Linked DNA regions of Homo sapiens. The protein of the gene in region 1 interacts with the protein of each later gene in a biochemical or structural test. Each region holds a gene or a part of one and is shown in the gene's direction. Other genes may lie near its edges. The genes, in order: NCBP3, DAPK1, SRPK2 and LRRK2.

Region 1 (4,963 bases):
CACTGTGAACACTGAAGTAGCAAATACTGAATCGTACATAGCCTCTGGCCACATCATTTTTGTCAGTTGATCAATATGTAACCTTGTTTTACATATGTTTCTCTCTTTTTTTTTTTTTTGAGACAGAGTCTTGCTCTGTTGCCCAGGCTGGAGTGCAGTGGCGCGATCTCGGCTCACTGCAACCTCCGCCTCCCGGGTTCACGCCATTCTCCTACCTCAGCCTCCCGAGTAGCTGGGACTACAAGCGCACACCACCATGCCCGGCTAATTTTTGTTGTATTTTTTAGTAGAGACAGGGTATTAGCATGTTAGCCAGGATGGTCTCGATTTCCTGACCTCGTGATCTGCCCACCTCGGCCTCCCAAAGTGCTGGGATTACAGGCGTGAGCCACCGCGCTGGGCCCATATGTTTCTCTTTAAGACACCTTATTTAAGACACATTGTTGATTCGTTAACATTGAGTTCACAGCCAGTAGCCCTATAACTCATGCCTGAATGCCTTACCTGATATGGTATTTTTCCACAAGGCACATCACAGCCCCCTTGCATCTAGGAACACTAGGCAGCACTTCGGCACGACACTCAGGGCCATTTTAAGCAGTGAAATCACTAGCAGCAGGCACAGAAGTGTGAAAAATGTGCCACTCGGTGGACTGAAACAGACGCTTGTTTACAGCATGAGATGAAACAGGAAGGTGGAGTGTTGCTTTGTTTGACCTCCACTGGGAGTGTGTGTGCCTGGTGACTCAGATTTTTTTGCCACTCTGTGCGTGCCAGCAAATGACCATGGAAGCATTGCACGTATTCATTTTGGAGTTACAAATAAATTTGGTAAATTTGCAAATACAAAATCTGTGAATAATAAAGGTCAGTTGTATTTTAAATGACTTTATGGTATTTGGTTAGGCTGCTGCATCATACTTTACCTAGCCATCCTCCTGTTGCAGTATCAGAGTAATGTCCATTTGGCACTATTATAGATAGTGCTCCAATAAAATGTCAGGGATGGGAACCCCACCTTTTAAAAAGGTCACCGATGTAGAGTAGAAAATCATACTTGTTAATTTTAGTGCTTTTCCTAATGTTTTCTGGTTAAATTTCTTCAGGGCTAGTGAATGTTCCCGAGGAACCCATTGAAGAGGAGGAAGAGGAGGAGGAGGAGGAAGAGGAAGAGGAAGAAGAAGACCAGGACATGGATGCAGATGACAGAGTGGTGGTAGAGTACCACGAGGAGCTCCCGGCTCTCAAGCAGCCCCGGGAGCGGAGCGCGTCTAGACGATCCAGTGCCAGCAGCTCAGACTCAGATGAAATGGACTATGATCTAGAACTGAAAATGATTTCCACGCCTTCACCAAAGAAAAGCATGAAAATGACTATGTATGCTGACGAAGTGGAATCTCAGTTGAAAAATATTAGGTAAAAATTTGTTTTATCAAAGCTAGCTTTTAATTTGATTTTAAATACTAGTATAACTTCTTAATTCCTCCTAATTTTATAATATCTTTTATCTATTCTGATTTCAGTCCCTTGTAGGAGTTTAATAAACGCATCCAGTATTTCCTCTATACAAGCAGTGATTCTTGTTATAAAAACAAAAGACAACATAGAAAGTGAAAATCATCTGTATTCCCATTCTTTCTCAACAATAACTACTGTTAGCAATTTGGCGAATAACCTTTCAGCTATTTGTGTGTGTGTGTGTGTGTGTGTGTATGGCACAGGGAAAAGCTGTAGATATATTTGTATAAAAGTATACTTTTTATAAAGATGAGGTTATGCTATTTATAGTTTTGCATTGTGCATTTTTCACTTAATATATTGTAGACATTATTTTTTTCAACTGTATATAGTCTGTTGTTTGAAAGTATCATGATTTATTTAACGAATTCCTTTTTGATGGACTTTAGGTTTCTATTTTCTTACAATTGCACTAACTCAATAAATTCCTCAAAGTCCAGTTATTACACAAAACAATATGTGTTTAAAAAGATGGTAAGTATTGCTTTATTTTTTTCCAGAAGGGTTTTTTGTGTGTTTTTATTTTTTTTTTGAGACGGAGTCTCGCTCTGTCACCCAGGCTGGAGTGCAGTGGCGCGATCTCGGCTCACTGCAAACTCCGCCTCCCAGGTTCACGCCATTCTCCTGCCTCAGCCTCCCGAGTAGCTGGGACTACAGGCGCCTGCCACTACTCCTGGCTAATTTTTTGTAATTTTAGTAGAGACGGGTTTCAGCATGTTGGCCAGGATGGTCTCAATCTCCTGACCTCGTGATCCACCTGCCTCAGCCTCCCAAAGTGCTGGGATTACAGGCATGAGCCACCATGCCCGGGCTCAGAAGGGTTTTAATCCCAGAAGGGTTTTAATCACTCACATTACCACCTGTTACCTACAAGCTCACCAGCCTTAGCTATTACCATTCTTTCTAATGCTAGCTAGTTTCATGAACAAAAAAAAAATAGTTATTTTAATGTGCATGTCTTTGATTACTACTAGGGGTGAGCAGATTCTGTGCAGGCAGAATCCACAGTTCTAAGGGTTAGAGTCTAGGGATGCTCTGTGTAACGTAGTATGTTTGTGGGGAGGGGAAAAGACCATTCAAGCTGATTTGTTTGTATGGCCTTGTTCACCACGTTCTTTTTTTTTTTGAGACGGAGTCTCGCTCTGTCGCCCAGCCTGGAGTGCAGTGGAGCGATAACACGATCTCGGCTCACTGCAAGCTCCGCCTTCTGGGTTCACAGCATTTTCCTGCCTCAGCCTCCCGGGGAGCTGGGAGTACAGGCCACCACGCCCAGCTAATTTTTTGTATTTTTAGTAGAGACTGGGTTTCACCATGTTAGCCAGGATGGTCTCGATCTCCTGACCTCGTGATCCGCCCGCCTCAGCTTCCCAAAGTGCTGGGATTACAGGCATGAGCCTGTTCACATTCTTATTTTTGGTTTTCAGAGAGCTTTCTGGTAGAGAATGCTGCCGGAACGGTGCTGGCACCTAGCATGATAGCATATCTCTTTGAAAGAGAAGTCTGCCCTTTAAAGAGAGAGACTGTAGACTATACTGTGTGTTGACTACAGCCACATCACAGCATGTGTAAGTGGAAGCCCCAATCTCTTTGTAGGCCTCTACTTAACGTTTGTCCCAGAAAAGGGGGACTTGTAGTTGTATGCTGTGTAATAGCACATACACATGTGGAAACCACCTTCGAAAACCTGCTCACCAGAACCAGTCTCTTTAGAGCAGGCAGATCATGGTTTCCATAAGCAAATAATTATAAGTTTATGGATTTGTAAGTGAATGTTGGCCATGTAAGACAGGATTTCTTAAATTGTTTCCTCCAAAGTATGAGATTGTTGTTTGGGTCTTGTCTCACAGTTGAAGTTGGTTAACTGTGCCCCATCCTACCCCCTTTTTAAAGGAACTCCATGAGGGCAGATAGTGTATCTTCAAGCAATATCAAAAACCGAATTGGTAACAAATTACCACCTGAGAAATTTGCAGATGTCCGACATCTATTAGATGAGAAACGTCAGCACTCCCGTCCACGGCCACCAGTCAGCAGTACTAAATCAGGTACTGTTCCTCACTTGGATTCCTGGCTGGATTCTGAGCTCCGGAAAGCAGACTGGGGCAGAGAGAGGTTCCTGAGTAAAACATGCGATGTGTGAACTGATTTAGCTGTCCTGGTTCATCATGTCTAAATTGTGGGCTAGGTGTTGGAAATTGAGGAAATGAAAAATAATCAGACTTCTGAAAAACTAGCTTTAAATGTTTTTATTCCAAATAATTACAGTTGTTCCTTGGTATGTCTGGGGGCTTGCTTCCAGGACCCCCTCCCCGCCCCCTACAGATACCAAAATCCATTGATGCTTAAGTCCCTTATATAAAGTGACATATTATCTGCATATAACCTACACACATCCTCTCATATACTTTAAGTCATCTCTAGATTATTTACAATACCTAATACGGTATAAATTCTTATCCTGTGTTGTGTAAAATTTGTATTATTTTTTGCTGTACTCTTATGTCTTACTTTTTTTCCACATGTATTCGATCAGCAGTTGGTTGAATCTATAGATGTGGAATCCATGGATGAGGAGGGCCAACCATATTTTCCTCTGTATGACACTGGTATACTTTATATACAAGAATAATAGAAATTAAGTTCGGTGGTTGTCTGAACAGTTAAGAGTTTGAACTAGATAATTTCTATGTTCAAACACTGATTCAGCAGGTCTTTAGCCGTACCTGCTATGTGCCAGACCCTGGTCTAGGTGCTAGGAATGTGAGAAGCCTTTGGAGGGGACGCAGAGCCGTCATAGATCTACTCGGGAAGTTGTGAAAGACTTCTTAGAGAAAGTAGCATTAGAGCCAGGCCTTGGAGAGGGTAGGATCTCTGTTGGCAAACCTGATTTTTTTACATGAGAAGTAACCTGATCTTACATCTATTTTAGAAAGACAACTTGAGGGTGGAGTGGGGTGGGGTAGAGAGTTAAAAAAGTAACAAGAGCCTGAACTAGGTCGGTGGAGACAGAATGGATAAAGAACAGGATAGTCTTGTGAAGGAAGACTCAGTGCTAGGAAGTGTTGGAGGAAAGGAGCTCAGGTCTCAGTGACCAGAGACCAGGGTGCTGCTCTCTGAGAGAAGCTAAAGTGAGAGGAGACCTCGGCACAGGGCCTCACCAACGAATGTGTTTCTGTTGTTGCTGTGGTGGTTAGGGGGAACTCAAGAGGACAGGCCGATTTCTGGGGGGATTGAGGGAAAAACACATTTGATCCTTTGCCTTTTCCAGTCTCTTTATATTTACTGGTTAAATGTAATAAGTTTATTGGGAACTACTTGTATGTTCAAAGATTGTGCCTTCCACTTTCCAGGAGCTCACAGGATTTTTTGTTCGCTGAAACTTTTGTAAATTACTTAGTCTTCTTGATTCTGCTTAAAGAAAAAAAAAAAAAGGTTGTTTCTTCAG
Region 2 (4,963 bases), on another chromosome or scaffold:
GCCTGGCTCTGGCGGGGAGTGGGGCATACAGCAGTAGCCAATAGCTGGGGTGGGAGGTTCTGACCACTCCCCTCCACCCACTTACAGTCTGGACAGAGAAATAAACTAAAAAAATCCGCAACCAACAACATACATTTTGCTTTTTTTGTAAATGTATTCTTTTTTTTTGTTTTTTTGAGACAGTCTCGCTCTGTCACCAGGCTGAAGGGCAGTGGCACAATCTTGGCTCACTGCCACCTCCGTCTCCCAGGTTCAAGTGATTCTCCTGCCTCAGTCTCCCGAGTAGCTGAGACTACAGGCACACGTCACCATGCCCAGTTGTTTTTTGTATTTTTAGTAGAGACGGTGTTTCTCCATGTTGGCCAGGATGGTCTCGATCTCTTGACCTTGTGATCCGCCCGCCTCAGCCTCCCAAAGTGCTGGGATTACAGGTGTGAGCCATTGCGCCCAGGCTACTAAATGTGATTTTTATAAATGTGTTAGTATTTACATACAAACCAATACTAGACAAGAGAGGAAAAAACCCTTATCAGACCATATATTGTGAATTTGAGTTTTAAAGAATTAATTAAACATGCAAGTTATGAACTTTTCAGGTACTCTCTAATTGAAATAAGAAGATATACACTATAAATTCTGTACAAAGCTGGCTTGCAGATTTTTTTCTCGTCATTAGAGTTAAGACATCACCTCTAAGTATGTTTAATTAAAATGTTTTCAAGATACACTGATATTTTCTTCACAGCATTTCATCTCTGCCCCTCCTCTCATTTGTGAACACGGAACCTTAGGAAAATGGTTCCCAAGTGCTTTCAAGCACAAATGTGTCTGAATGCAGAATTGTCAACAACCTGCACAGAGAATTCTGAATCCATGCTTGGCGGTTTCAGCATAGTCTTTATGCTGTTTTCTTGTCTGAAGTTTGAGCGCACCAATAGTCTATGAGAGAAGGAATCAATATGAAACAGAGTTGTTACCAATAACCTCTGCTTCCGGGTTCTCAGCGTTGCAGGTGGCGAGCTGTTTGACTTCTTAGCTGAAAAGGAATCTTTAACTGAAGAGGAAGCAACTGAATTTCTCAAACAAATTCTTAATGGTGTTTACTACCTGCACTCCCTTCAAATCGCCCACTTTGATCTTAAGGTACGTTTCAAAGTGTAAGCCAGATAGAAGCTTGTGCAGATCACAGCCTTGGTTGTTTCTCTGCTAAGAAAAATTGAGGCATCTGAAAGAGTTACATGATTTTCCTGTACCAGTTTAACAAACAGAAATATCACTATAAATCGGCAAGCATAGGATACATGCCCCCCACTGGGATGGCTAACCTTTTTGTGGGATAGAGGCTTAATGATAATTGATTACATTCTGGAATTCTTGGTAAAGAATACAAGGGGTCTTAGGAGCCAGGTTTTTTAGTAAGGGGGCTGCTCTAGCCAGCAGCTAGTGACTGGCACTGGTTCCTTCTGTGGCTCTGGGCATGTTAAGATAGAAAATGTGTTGAGTGATGCAAAGGCGTATGGCCTGACTCTGTCACCAATAATCAAGCAAACCAAACTCAGATTGGCTAATTGGGGCATTTGCCTGGCTGGATGCAGGACGCTGTTGGAGATGAAAGGGCATGTAAGCCGTCCTCCCAGCCATGACAGAGGTGTGGTCTCTTTGGGAAGGGAAGACACGACAGGAGCAATAGGAAGTGGCAATGGTGGGAAGTTCCAGTTCAAGGCAGGAAGAGGTGGTCTGGTAAAGCAGCGCGTGCTCCATCCGAGTAGTTGATTCAGACCAGTAGAGCTGGGATAGGATTTCAGAGGAGGGAGGATTTTCCCCATTCTTCTGTAGCAGAGCTGTCAATGTCCCATTCATGTCCCTGCTGGCCCCACAAACAATGTGCAAAAGCACACACTCATATACATCCTAACAGAGGGCTTGTTGCAAATACCTGTGACTCTTCCTGGCATCTTGTTTCTGGCCCTGGGAGCTGGAAATGCAAAAGAAAAATGTCCACAGAAGCAACTGTCAGCCATGGAGGATGGAGAAATGGTGGATAAAGACCCCAGCTCCCTCCTGCTACAATTGGAATAACACTGAGTTCTCCTTTTCCTCTCCCATTCCCCCAGTTACCCCCACTTGATAGGACACCTCGTAGCAGCTTCCTTCTGTTTCCTGTATCTCCTTTCTCTACCAAGTGTTTCCTGGTGTCCCCTCCCACATAACCCACTTGCATCCGAATCCTTGTCTCAGGCCTGCTTCAGGGAGAACCTAGAGCAAGACATGTATTTTCCTGCTGTTCTCTTCCAACCACCCTTTCTTCCCTACTTTTTGGCCTTTTTTTTTTTTTTGGAGAGAAGAACTATTCTGCCATCTTGTCCTCAGCATAACATATCATAGCTTTTTATTTATCTCTCTCTTTTTTTCAAGCCTGAGAACATAATGCTTTTGGATAGAAATGTCCCCAAACCTCGGATCAAGATCATTGACTTTGGGTTGGCCCATAAAATTGACTTTGGAAATGAATTTAAAAACATATTTGGGACTCCAGAGTTTGTCGGTAAGTTTCTTTGCTCCTGTGGTCATTTACGTCTCATAAACATTATTCTGGCAAACCTCCCCTGCTAGAAGATTCTTTCCCTGCTACATGTTCCTGGTTGTTGCATGAAGATAGAATCGGTTAGTTTGCTTCCTCCCAAGCTAAATGAGTGTTTGTTTCCTCTTAGCTCCTGAGATAGTCAACTATGAACCTCTTGGTCTTGAGGCAGATATGTGGTAAGGAGTATGTCCTTGGTGTTGTTTGCTTTCTGATTTATTTGACTATTCTTCTGACATGTTTTTTTGTTTGTTTTGTGTTGTTTTTAGGAGTATCGGGGTAATAACCTATATCCTGTAAGTATCAGAATTCACAACTCATACTCTCTTCTCTTCTATGAGACCATAGGTTTAATTAACCATTAAATGTGCTGTGTTGATCTCTTCAGCTTATGCATGCTTTTGATGCAAACATATTCATTTTACACCCCCAAAACATGTTTAGTTTATACTAATTAAACATGTTCTCCTAATTTGAAATGAGTCATCAGAAACTGTAGCATAATCACTGAAAGAAAGCATAGCTGTCCATCACTGCCGAGAAAACAGGTTTCCTTTAAACTACCAGACGCTGTTCCAGATTAACTTGTTAAGTGAATCCTTTTGCCTGAAGCTGAAGCATTTGCTCCTGACAGTTAAAGCCCTATGAAATATAATCAAACTGTGACTATTCGAGCACCAGATTATAATCTTATTCCACACTCCAGATGTTATAGGAGCAAAATGACAACACCAAGGGGTCATCATTAATGTTCTATGCCCAACTTTATTTTTAACAGCCTAAGTGGGGCCTCCCCATTTCTTGGAGACACTAAGCAAGAAACGTTAGCAAATGTATCCGCTGTCAACTACGAATTTGAGGATGAATACTTCAGTAATACCAGTGCCCTAGCCAAAGATTTCATAAGAAGACTTCTGGTCAAGGATCCAAAGTGAGTGTCCACGTTCCTGAAAGGTGCTTGGCCACGGCCTCAGCCAGCCCAGAGCCTGTGTCTGTTCCATGCACAGGGCCACGTTCCTCAGACCCTGCTTGCTTCATCTGCCAAAGGGCAGCATGCCATGTGAAACGCTTCAGAAAATGCAAGCAGGGCCCTCTGCCCCCACTCAGTCAGTCCCTGCAGGCACAGTGAAATAATCACAAAAAGACCGATGTTGTTTTTGGCTTTCTTCCCTGAACTGCATTTTCCACAGTATCTGCTTGGCAGGCCCAGCCAGCATGAAAACAACCTTAGTATTTGCTGCTATGGTCACAGCATTTTTTTTCTTCTCCCCCTCCCCTCAAGGAAGAGAATGACAATTCAAGATAGTTTGCAGCATCCCTGGATCAAGGTGAGTTGCATATTACGAAACTGTTTAGATCACTTTCTATGTGATTGGTTTGGGCACCCTGGTATTCATGTATCATAGAGTACTGCTAACCACAGGTCACACCTGGAGTGTTAAGTTTGCTATTTGCATCGTATCTTAAGAAAAGCTGACAGGTTAGACTGTATACTAATGATCCCAGAGGTGGGGAGAGAGGAATAAGCGAGCACAGAGCAGGAACTGAAGAAGGTCAAGCCCACTCGACAACTGTGTTTGGAGTGACCTGTGGGGTGTTGGCCCAAACAGTGTATTTAACATTTTATGTTGATTCCAGCATGTAAATATCAATCAAATCTGGATTTCCAGCTTCTCTTGGGAAATCTGAAGATCTGCTGACACTGAGCCCTCATTCCACGTGGCCTTGGGAAGTGGCACAGGTGCCTTGGTGCTAGGGAACAGGGCGCCCTGGAACATTACACCTTTACATTACCTGCCTGGCCTGGTTGACATTTGGATTAAAGTATCTTCAATCCAGGGCAGAAAGGGCTAAGGGTGGGAAAGTATGATAGTTACAGAATAAAATCATGAAATAAAGAAGTGAACATCACAGAATCAGGCTCTGGGGGCAAATAGCTTTGCTGTGCAAGTTCCCAGCAGTTACCTGGGTTCTCCTAGCCAGCTATGGTGTCTCCTCCTCCCAGAGGTGGAGGACAAAAGCTAAATACATCTACTGAAAAAGATACAATACAAGGAATTCTCCTGCTATAGGCCAAACTAACTTTGCTGACCTCTGAGATCCCTCTCAGCTCTACATTACTTGATGATACCCAAGTTCAAATGCCTCATAACATAGCCTCACCATGAATATTGCCATTCCCAAACTATCAGTGTGGAAAGTTGTGATTTAGTTTGACCCCAAGCTCTACTTCTCCCCAGTGTCCATGGATGATACGAAACCCTGAGATAGAAGAGTGAGCCCGCTAAGACTAGGTGCCTAGGTATTCCATGTTATCCCAACTTCTTATGCTAATTTAATAAGGTGAATGTGTAAGCATCCTGAATAAGGAGATGTTTCAAA
Region 3 (4,963 bases), on another chromosome or scaffold:
TGTCGCTCAGGCTGGAGTGCAATGGCCCAATCTTGGCTCACTGCAACCTCCGCCTCCCAGGTTCAAGGGATTCTCCTGCCTCAGCCTCCTGAGTAGCTGGGATTACAGGCACCCGCCACCAAGCCTAGCTATTTTTTTTGTATTTTTTAGTAGAGACGGGGTTTCACCATGTTGGCCGGGCTGGTCTACAACTCCTGACTTCAGGTGATTCACCGGCCTCGGCCTCCCACACAGCTGGGATTACAGGTGTGAGCCACCGTGCCCGACCTGAATCAAGATATTATTTAAAAGAACTGTTTGATGTTATTTATTTATTCATGTCTTCAATAGGTATTTACATGTCTGTCTTCGGAGATGGTGTTAGAGGTTGTTTTTTTTTTTTTTTTGAGACCGAGTCTTGCTCTGTTGCCCAGGCTGGAGGGCAGTGGCGCGATCTCGGCTCACTGCAAGCTCCGCCTCCCGAATTCACGCCATTCTCCTGCCTCAGCCTCCTGAGTAGCTGGGACTACAGGCGCCCGCCACCACGCCCGGCTAATATTTTGTATTTTTAGTAGAGGTGGGGTTTCACCGTGTTAGCCAGGATGGTGTCGATCTCCTGACCTCGTGATTCGCCCGCCTCGGCCTCCTAAAGTGCTGGGATTACAGGCGTGAGCCACCAAGCCCGGCCGGTGATAGAGTTTTGAACAAGACAAAGCTCCTTGCAAAGCTAACCTTGGGAGGTTTGGGGAAAACCACAAAGAGGGTGACAAGATAATTTCAGATAGGGCTAAGGGATAGGAAGAAAATGAAGATGGGACATGTTAAGTAATAATAATAGATGACATTTGAACACTGTGCCAGTCACTCTGTCGATTGTTTTACATATACCTTGTGACAACCCTAAGAGGTAGGCACCGTTATTACGGACATTTTACAGGTGAAACAGGGACACAGGAAAAGTAAGTAACATGCCCAGCTGTTGAATCAAGGCAGCCCGGGACCAGAGTCCACTCTCTGAGAAATGGCATTTGGGCAGGATCGAGAATGAGGAGGAGATCCAGTGTGGCAGAGGCCCTGGGGAGGAATGGGCTGGAAGTATTCGAGAAACCCAAAAGTAAGAGTGGCCTGAGTGGCCCAGAGAGGTTGATGGGAGGCAGGAGTCAGAGCGTGTCTACCCTCGTAGGCCATTGGAGGCTTACATGTGGAAGGGACAGGTTCTGATTCCTGTTTAAAAAGAGGGCTGCTGTCCGGGCGCGGTGGCTCACGCCTGTAATCCCAGCACTTTGGGAGGCCGAGGCGGGCGGATCACGAGGTCAGGAGATCAAGACCATCCTGGCTAACACCCCGTCTCTACTAAAAATACAAAAACAAAATTAGCCCGGCATGGTGGCGGGCGCCTGTAGTCTCAGCTACTCGGGAGGCTGAGGCGAGAGAATGGCGTGAACCTGGAAGGCGGAGCTTGCAGTGAGCCGGGATTGTGCCACTGCACTCCAGCTTGGGCGACAGAGCGAGACTCCATCTCAAAAAAAAAAAAAAAAAAAAAAAAAAATGCCGGGCGCGGTGGCTCACGCCTGTAATCCCAGCACTTTGGGAGGCCGAGGCGGGCGGATCACGAGGTCAGGAGATCGAGACCATCCTGGCTAACACGGTGAAACCCCGTCCCTACTAAAAATATAAAAAATTAGCTGGGCGTGTGGGCGCCTGTAGTCCCAGCTACTCGGGAGGCTGAGGCAGGAGAATGGCGTGAACCCGGGAGGCGGAGCTTGCAGTGAGCCGAGATTGCGCCACTGCACTCCAGCCTGGGCGACAGAGCCAGACTCCGTCTCAAAAAAAAAAAAAGGTTGCTATGTGGAGAATAGATTGTGGGGATGGGGGTAGTAGTGGAAACAGAAGTGGCCTGCAGTAGTGCATGGGAAACCGGGTGACGTTGAGTGTGTGAGGAGTGGCACCTGAGAAGTGGTAAAAGAATCTCCAGGAGACTAGTATTTTCAGGGTACCCCGAATTTTACAGACAGCTCTGACAGGTTAAGCCCACAATAGCTTCGTTTGGATCAGAATTCAGGTCTCTTGAAGCACGGTTTTTGCTTTTTGATTAATTTTCCAGAGGAGGAAAAGGAGTAATAGGTATAATTTTAAACTATTAATATGATGACTGGCAAACTTGAATTATGTGACTGTGGGTCTGGCTTGGTATAATATGATTTACTTTTGTCATTATCTACTTTTGTATATACAAGCAGGCTTTTAATTAATTTTAGTTCATTTCAAATCTGTGAGCTTTTATGAATTGAGCCAGTTCCTAGAGGCTACTTTTATGGTACACTGGAAATTGTAGTTGTCAGGAATAAGATTAAGATTATTTAGTGGGTCAAAATTTTAATCCTGTTAGATTGTCCTGTGAGTTTAGTTTGCTTATTATTAATTGTGCTGCTTTGTGAGTAACAGGCAGAACGGAAGGACTGTAGTGCTGTTTAGTCACAAATCTTAGGAATTAGCTACATCACATAGCTTGGGATAAATTTTTGCCTTATAGTATGTTTATATGGAGGTACAATTTTTAAAATATCTCTTTCATTTATTTTTTTCATAACTTTTATTGGGATATAGTTCACATACCATAAAATTTACCTTTTAAAGTAGGCCATTTACAGATTTTTAGTCTATTCATTAAATTGTGCAGCCGTTATCTAATTCTATAACATTTTCACTTCCCCAGAAAGAAACTCCATATTTATTTCCCAGTTATTCTCCATTCCCCTTCCCCCTGCGTTGGCAACAACTAATTTACATTCTAAGTCTCTATGAATCTGCTTATTCTGAACATTTCATGTAAATGGAATATACAGTATGTGGCTTTGTCTGGTTTCCTTAGAACAATGTTTTCAAGGTTCATCCATGTTATGGCACGTATTAGTACTTAATTCCTTTATATTGTTGAATAGTTGTGTCAATATGCCACATTTTATCCATTTATCCATTGTTCCTTAAAATTTTTCTATTTCTGGCCAGGCGTGGTGGCTCATGCCTGTAATCCCAGCACTTTGGGAGGATGAGGTGGGCGGATCACGAGGTCAATAGTTCGAGACCAGCCTGGCCAATAGGGTGAAACCCCGTCTCTACTAAAAATACAAAAATTGCCTGGCATGGTAGTGTGCTCCTGCAGTTCCAGCTACTCGGGAGGCTGAGGCAGAAGAATTGCTTGAACCTGGGAGACGGAGGTTGTGGTGAGCCGAGATCATGCCGCTGCACTCCAGCCTGGGTGACAGAGCGACACTCCGTCTCAATTAAAAAAAAAAAAAAATTCTGTTTTGTTTTTTGTTCTTGTAAAATTTTTATTAAAACATTTAATTTTGAGGCCGGGTGCGGTGGCTCATGCCTATAATCCCAGCACTTTGGGAGGCTGAGGTGGGCAGATCACGAGGTCAGGAGATCGAGACCATCCTGGCTACGGTGAAACCCCGTCTCTACTAAAAAAAAAAATACAAAAAATTAGCCGGGCATGGTGGCGGGCACCTATAGTCCCAGCTAGTTGGGAGGCTGAGGCGGGAGAATGGCGTGAACCCAGGAGGCGGAGCTTGCAGTGAACCGAGATTGTGCCACTGCACTCCAGCCTGGGCGATAGAGCGAGACTCTGTCTCCAAAAAAAAAAAAAAAAAAAAAAAAAAAATTTTTACTTTTGAAATAATTTCAGACTCACAAGACCTTGCAAAAGTGGTACAGAGTTCTTTGTGTACTCTTTATTCAACTTCCCTGACGTTGATATCTTAACCATAGAACATTGTTGAAACCAATAAATTGACATTGAGACAATGTTATTAATTCAAGAAAGATTTTACTTGGATTTTATCAGTTTTACATGCACTCTCTGTGTAGTTCTAACAAATTGTGTCACTTGTGTAGATTAGAATAATCACCACAGTCAGGATGCCAAACTGTTTCATTACCACAAAGAACAGTCACTCTCTCTTCAAATCTAAGCTTGGGAAACACTGATCTGTTCTCTATCACTTAATGTTGCCACTTTGAGAATGTTATATAAATGGAATTATACAGTATGTCACCTTTTGTGATTCGCCTTTTTTCATGCAGCGTAATGCCCTTGAGATTCATCCATGTTGTTGCCTGTGTGAGCAGAGCATTCCTTTTTTTTTTTTTTTTTTTTTTTTTTGAGATGGAGTTTTGCTCTTGTTGCCCAGGCTGGAGTGCAGTGGCACGATCTTGGCTCACCGTAACCTCCGCTTCCTGGGTTTAAGCGATTCTCCTGACTTAGCCTCCTGAGTAGCTGGGATTACAGGCATGTGCCACCATGCCAGGCTAATTTTGTATTTTAAGTAGAGACGGGGTTTCTCCACTTTGGTCAGGCTGGTCTCGAGCTCCTGACCTCAGGTGATCCACCCGCCTTGGCATCCCAAAGTGCTGGGATTATAGGCATGAGCCACCGTGCCTGGCTGTGCTTTCCTTTTTATTGGTAACAAGTATTCCATTGTGTGGATTAACAGTTTATTCACAGGCTAAAGGATATCTGGGTATACTTTGCTTCTACTTTTTTTTTTGAGATGGCATCTTGCTCTGTCGCCCAGGCTGGAGTGCACTGGCGCAATCATGGCTCACTGCACCTGCCACCTCCCAGGTTCAAGCGATTCTCCTGGCTCAGCCTCCCAAGTAGCTGGGACTACAGGCATGTGCCACCACGCCTGGCTAATTTTTGTATTTTTAGTAGAGATGGGGTTTCACCATCTTGGTCAGGCTGGTTACGAACTCCTGGCCTCAAATGATCTGCCTGCCTTAGCCTCCCAAAGTGTTGGGATTACAGGCGTGAGCCACCGTGCCCAGCTTGGTGAGACAGTTTTGGAATGTAATGATACAAGTTTATATCCTTATTCAGTAAGCCTCAACCCTTGAATTTATACTTCCCTGTAGTATAAATTCAAGCTCATAAGCCCATGACTTTGGAATACTTCTCATGGATTACCTAATTTTCATT
Region 4 (4,963 bases), on another chromosome or scaffold:
AAGAAAATTTTGTCTTCAGAACATAAAAGAATAGGCACATAATGTGCATAGTTTTCTCATGGTATTACAAAGAATGTTCTCGAATGAAAATACTACATTATTGAAAATGAGCATATTGGAGTCTCTGCTAGCTTTGACATAGTTCTGTCACAGTGTCAAATATACTATTTATAATTAAATTATGGGCCCCAGGATTATCTGCTCTAAAGAAAAAGAGTCACAAAATAATAGACAAATATGGGGGGAAATGCAATGGACTGACCGAGGCGCTAAGGAGTGGGGATCAAGACCCCAGAATGAGAGCATAGTGCTTAGTCTGATGCAGCCTGTGAGTGACAAATCCATAGCAAGCACATTCTTTCTGTGCTGGTGCTGAGAAACAGGACCATTTTCAAGCTTATTTGCTAGCCACTTTATATTTTTATTTTGTTTTGATTTTACCATATAGATCTATGATACTCTTGAGAACATTTTAGATTACACACTATATCTGTAAAAGGATACTTCAAAGTTTCCTGTCTTAGATTCATCTGACAGTTTTTCTATGGATTGTGAGAAGGGCTCACAGTTTATGTTCAGAAGGGCCAACAGGTCTCCTTGATAAAGGGTTCCTTACTTCCTGAAGTACCAAAACGATTAGGATTCTTTTATTTCTGGACACTTCATTTTTGTCATGAATTAGACTATTCACTGGTTCTGGGAAAAAATTCAGTGGTTTGTATCGATATCTTTTACATGTGAATGACTATAATTTTATGTTCCTTTGTAACATTGAGACTTCATGTAAAACTTTTGACTCTAACTTTTTTTTTTCTTTATCCTGGGCACATGTATGCTATTTTTACTGAATTAGATAGCTTTGGTATTTATAAAAATTGTATCCCTCTTATTCATAATTTCCTGAAAATGAAGGGCTATTGTTATCTTTGATAATTTATGCTTCAAGTAAAGAAGTGTGGCTCTTTGGCATCTGTATTTAGCAAAATTTGCTTTGTATAATTTTAATGATGCATAATGGTGGTGGTGTCATGTTTTAATAATTTAAAATGTTGTTTATGTTATCATATGTAAATAGCATTTATCTCTTAATTGGTGGTAAAATTATTAATGTATACTTTATGGTTCTAGGGAGGTAATGGTAAAAGAAAACAAGGAATCAAAACACAAAATGTCTTATTCTGGGAGAGTGAAAACCCTCTGCCTTCAGAAGAACACTGCTCTTTGGATAGGAACTGGAGGAGGCCATATTTTACTCCTGGATCTTTCAACTCGTCGACTTATACGTGTAATTTACAACTTTTGTAATTCGGTCAGAGTCATGATGACAGCACAGCTAGGCAAGTTTCTTTCCTTTAGATATTTTTCATATTCTCTAAGTCTTATAAAATATGCCTTTATTTTACGTTTACATTTTCTCTGAACTTTCCAGTGTCATATGGATGGTCTTGGAGGGTCACACAGTGAAACATAAGACTGGTATAAATTGTGAATAGGGTCATTACAGAAGTGGAGGGAGTAAATGCTCTCAGTCCCACAAGAGAAGCAGATTACTGCAGCTGAACACTCAGTTTGGGTCTTACTTGCTTTTTTCCTTTTTACCTAAGGCAAAAATGGGAAATACATGGTATTGAATATATTTTACTTTTTGAGCAAAGAAAATAAAGAAAATGTTTGTTTTAATCATAGTCTAGCCTCCCAGCTTGTTAAAGAATCTCATTTGGTTTTTCATTCTATAACAAATCTTTTTTCTTGCAGCAATACATGCTGAACTGCACAACCTACAAATATTGACAAATCATATTTTACTCAAACTTTGTCTTTTTTTGCTTCTATTTTTATATTTAAATATGATAAAATTGTGATAGCACATAAAATATATTTTCTGCATAAATATATTTGCGTCTTCCTTTGATAATAATTTGTTTTAGAAAATAACAATAATAGCATATATACAAAAGTTTACAAAAACGACACTATGGGGTTTAATTCTGAAAAAAACTAGAATTTATGTAACTTTAGCAAATAATGAATGTTTTGAACATGGTGAAGAAAATATATTCATTGCAAGTATATGTGAAAGAGGAACATGTGTTTTTCTAGCACCTTCACCTATTTTTCATTTATAGACTTTAGAGTTGCACAGGAGTTACAATTAGATGCTCTTAATGACTGTAAACTATTAAGATACATGTCCACACAAGCAGAGCAGTAGGTCTCTCAATAGGTTGTCTCAGTAGTCTTATTCTACCAAAGTTGTTGCATTCTCTAGTTGAATTGTATGTACTTTGGGACCCAAATAGCTTGCTTATAACTGAAGTTATAGTGGAATGTCTATGGGTTATAGTTTGATTTTAAAATAAAGATCAATTGGAGGATAGCCTACAAGGTGCTGCATGAGCTGGCTTCACTGTACCTCTCCTGCCTCCATCATCTACCACATTCCTACCAGATCTTGCTTGTCTAGATGAACATCCAGTTCTTCTCAATTACTATGCTATATTTTGCCTCAGGGATTTGCACATGCTGTTTATTTCTTTGCTTAGTTAACATAGCTTTTTTTCATGCTTATTTAACTCATATGCTTTGAAATGTTAGCTCCTGTGTCAAAACCTCTGAGAAGCCAACACTGATTAGGTCAAAGTTCCCGCTTTGGGTTCCCATAACAGCTTTCTTGCATAGTTTTGATCATGGTCATATTTTTTTTTCATTAATGCTAGTCTCTTCACTAGAATATAAACTCCAAGACGGTTGGGTTAGTGTGTTTTTGTTTACCCCTTTTTTCCCAGGATCTAGCCTAGGGCCTACATAGAAGACTTTTGATGCAAATTTGTTGAATAAATTAGTGAATGATTTGAAAAGAAAATATGATATTTTGACATAGTATCAGTATATCCATCCATCTAAGTGTCCATCTAAATACTCATATTTGTACTAAATACTCATATTTGTACCTTACCATATCCAAAGAACTTTTCACACACATTACCTCGTTTAACATTGTAACTTTGGGAAGGGTAATGTATAAATACTGAGCCTATTTTATAGAAAGGTTAAGCTGTTTTCTCAGACTCACATAATTAAGAATTGCAGCAAGGAGTGGATCACAGATTTTGTTATTTTTTAAAAAAATGCTGGTCTTTATTCAATATAATTGAAGGGTCACCTAGAAAATAGAATTGTGAATTCAGTTCCAAGGTATTTGTGTCTTAAACTATGAACAACTTTACTTTTTTTTCAGGCCAGTTTAATATATAGTTTTAACAGAAAACTTACATATTTTGTTTTTGTAAAGGAAGCCTTAAAAATGTCATGCTGGTATTGGGCTACAACCGGAAAAATACTGAAGGTACACAAAAGCAGAAAGGTAACATTTAGAAGGATACTGTTTTCCAAACAGGGCAATGATGTGAATGATGGTAACATATTATGTGTTTCATAAATTTGTAGAAAATATTACATATGGTATAATCAGGAATTTTAATTGGTAGTTTATAGTGTAAAGAACTTAGACATAAATTTTCAAAATTACAAGTGATATGAAGTGTTAAATATTTATATTTTCAGCTGAAGTAGAGGTGTCAATCACTAGCTCAACCTTAAACGAAATGTGAATATTTTTTACAACTTATCTATATCTACATAATGTCTAATTTTGAACAGTGTTTGAAAAAGCTTTTATTTCTTTTAGAATATGAAATGTTAATTTATTAAATGTTGATACTCTATTTGAAATTTAATAGTTTCTATAATGTATTATAAAACTTTTCCAAGTATAGTTTTTTATAAATAATAATTTAGTACATTAGTTATAGCTGTGTTTATATTTACATTTATCTAAGTCAACTAAAAATACATGAGCCAAACTGAAATAAAATAAGAATGTTTTATGATGGATCTTTGAAACATGATTTCATTTTTTTCTTTTTCTAGAGATACAATCTTGCTTGACCGTTTGGGACATCAATCTTCCACATGAAGTGCAAAATTTAGAAAAACACATTGAAGTGAGAAAAGAATTAGCTGAAAAAATGAGACGAACATCTGTTGAGTAAGAGAGAAATAGGAATTGTCTTTGGATAGGAAAATTATTCTCTCCTCTTGTAAATATTTATTTTAAAAATGTTCACATGGAAAGGGTACTCACATTTTTTGAAATAGCTCGTGTGTATGAAGGAATGTTATTATTTTTAATTTAAATATATGTAAAAATACTTACCAGTAAATGTGTATTTTAAAGAACTATTTAAAACACAATGTTATATTTCTTATAAATACCAGTTACTTTCGTTCATTAATTAATGAAAATAAATCTGTGAAGTACCTAATTTAAGTACTCATACTAAAATTTATAAGGCCGATAATTTTTTGTTTTCTTGTCTGTAATGGAGGTAAACTTTATTTTAAATTCTGTGCTTAAGACAGGACTATTGCTTGTCGATTTTTCTAGAAATCTGCACGGTATAATGAAAATATTAAGACAGTTTCCCATGTAATGTATTCCTTCTTAGATTGCATCGAAATGCACTATCATATATGCTTGTAAATATTCAAATGAATTTGCACTAATAAAGTCCTTTGTTGGTATGTGAATTCTCTTTGTTGCTGTTGCAAACAGTGCATCTTACACAACTTCACTCAATTCAAAAGAAAACTCCATTAAAAGTACTAATGAAAAAACATGACATACTGTCAAAGTCCTCATATCTAGGAAAGACACAGAAACTCTCTTTGTCACAGAAACTCTCTGTGTCTTTCCTAGACATAATAGAGTTGTTTTTCAACTCTATGTTTGAATGTGGATACCCTGAATTTTGTATAATTAGTGTAAATACAGTGTTCAGTCCTTCAAGTGATATTTTTATTTTTTTATTCATACCACTAGCTACTTGTTTTCTAATCTGCTTCATTCTAATGCTTATATTCATCTTTTCCCTAAATTTGTGATGCTGCAGATCCTACATCA

What was found.
Region 2: the proteins of NCBP3 (region 1) and DAPK1 form a complex in vitro, tested with the Homo sapiens proteins (one large-scale study listed by BioGRID and IntAct).
Region 3: of the proteins of NCBP3 (region 1) and SRPK2, one has a biochemical effect on the other in vitro, tested with the Homo sapiens proteins (one large-scale study listed by BioGRID and IntAct).
Region 4: the proteins of NCBP3 (region 1) and LRRK2 form a complex in vitro, tested with the Homo sapiens proteins (one large-scale study listed by BioGRID and IntAct).

The regions. Positions count from the first base shown.
Region 1 is NC_000017.11:3,814,716-3,819,678, reverse strand, and holds part of NCBP3 (nuclear cap-binding protein subunit 3), read left to right. Parts: intron 1-1,106; coding exon 1,107-1,416; intron 1,417-3,408; coding exon 3,409-3,563; intron 3,564-4,963. UniProt on the Homo sapiens protein: Associates with NCBP1/CBP80 to form an alternative cap-binding complex (CBC) which plays a key role in mRNA export. NCBP3 serves as adapter protein linking the capped RNAs (m7GpppG-capped RNA) to NCBP1/CBP80.
Region 2 is NC_000009.12:87,636,939-87,641,901, forward strand, and holds part of DAPK1 (death-associated protein kinase 1), read left to right. Parts: intron 1-1,004; coding exon 1,005-1,143; intron 1,144-2,415; coding exon 2,416-2,545; intron 2,546-2,711; coding exon 2,712-2,760; intron 2,761-2,850; coding exon 2,851-2,877; intron 2,878-3,359; coding exon 3,360-3,512; intron 3,513-3,863; coding exon 3,864-3,909; intron 3,910-4,963. UniProt on the Homo sapiens protein: Calcium/calmodulin-dependent serine/threonine kinase involved in multiple cellular signaling pathways that trigger cell survival, apoptosis, and autophagy.
Region 3 is NC_000007.14:105,381,737-105,386,699, reverse strand, and holds part of SRPK2 (SRSF protein kinase 2), read left to right. Parts: intron 1-4,963. UniProt on the Homo sapiens protein: Serine/arginine-rich protein-specific kinase which specifically phosphorylates its substrates at serine residues located in regions rich in arginine/serine dipeptides, known as RS domains and is involved in the phosphorylation of SR splicing factors and the regulation of splicing.
Region 4 is NC_000012.12:40,363,714-40,368,676, forward strand, and holds part of LRRK2 (leucine-rich repeat serine/threonine-protein kinase 2), read left to right. Parts: intron 1-1,128; coding exon 1,129-1,337; coding exon of another isoform or gene 1,338-1,420; exon of another isoform or gene 1,421-3,292; coding exon 3,293-3,364; exon of another isoform or gene 3,365-3,930; coding exon 3,931-4,052; 3' UTR 4,053-4,963. UniProt on the Homo sapiens protein: Serine/threonine-protein kinase which phosphorylates a broad range of proteins involved in multiple processes such as neuronal plasticity, innate immunity, autophagy, and vesicle trafficking.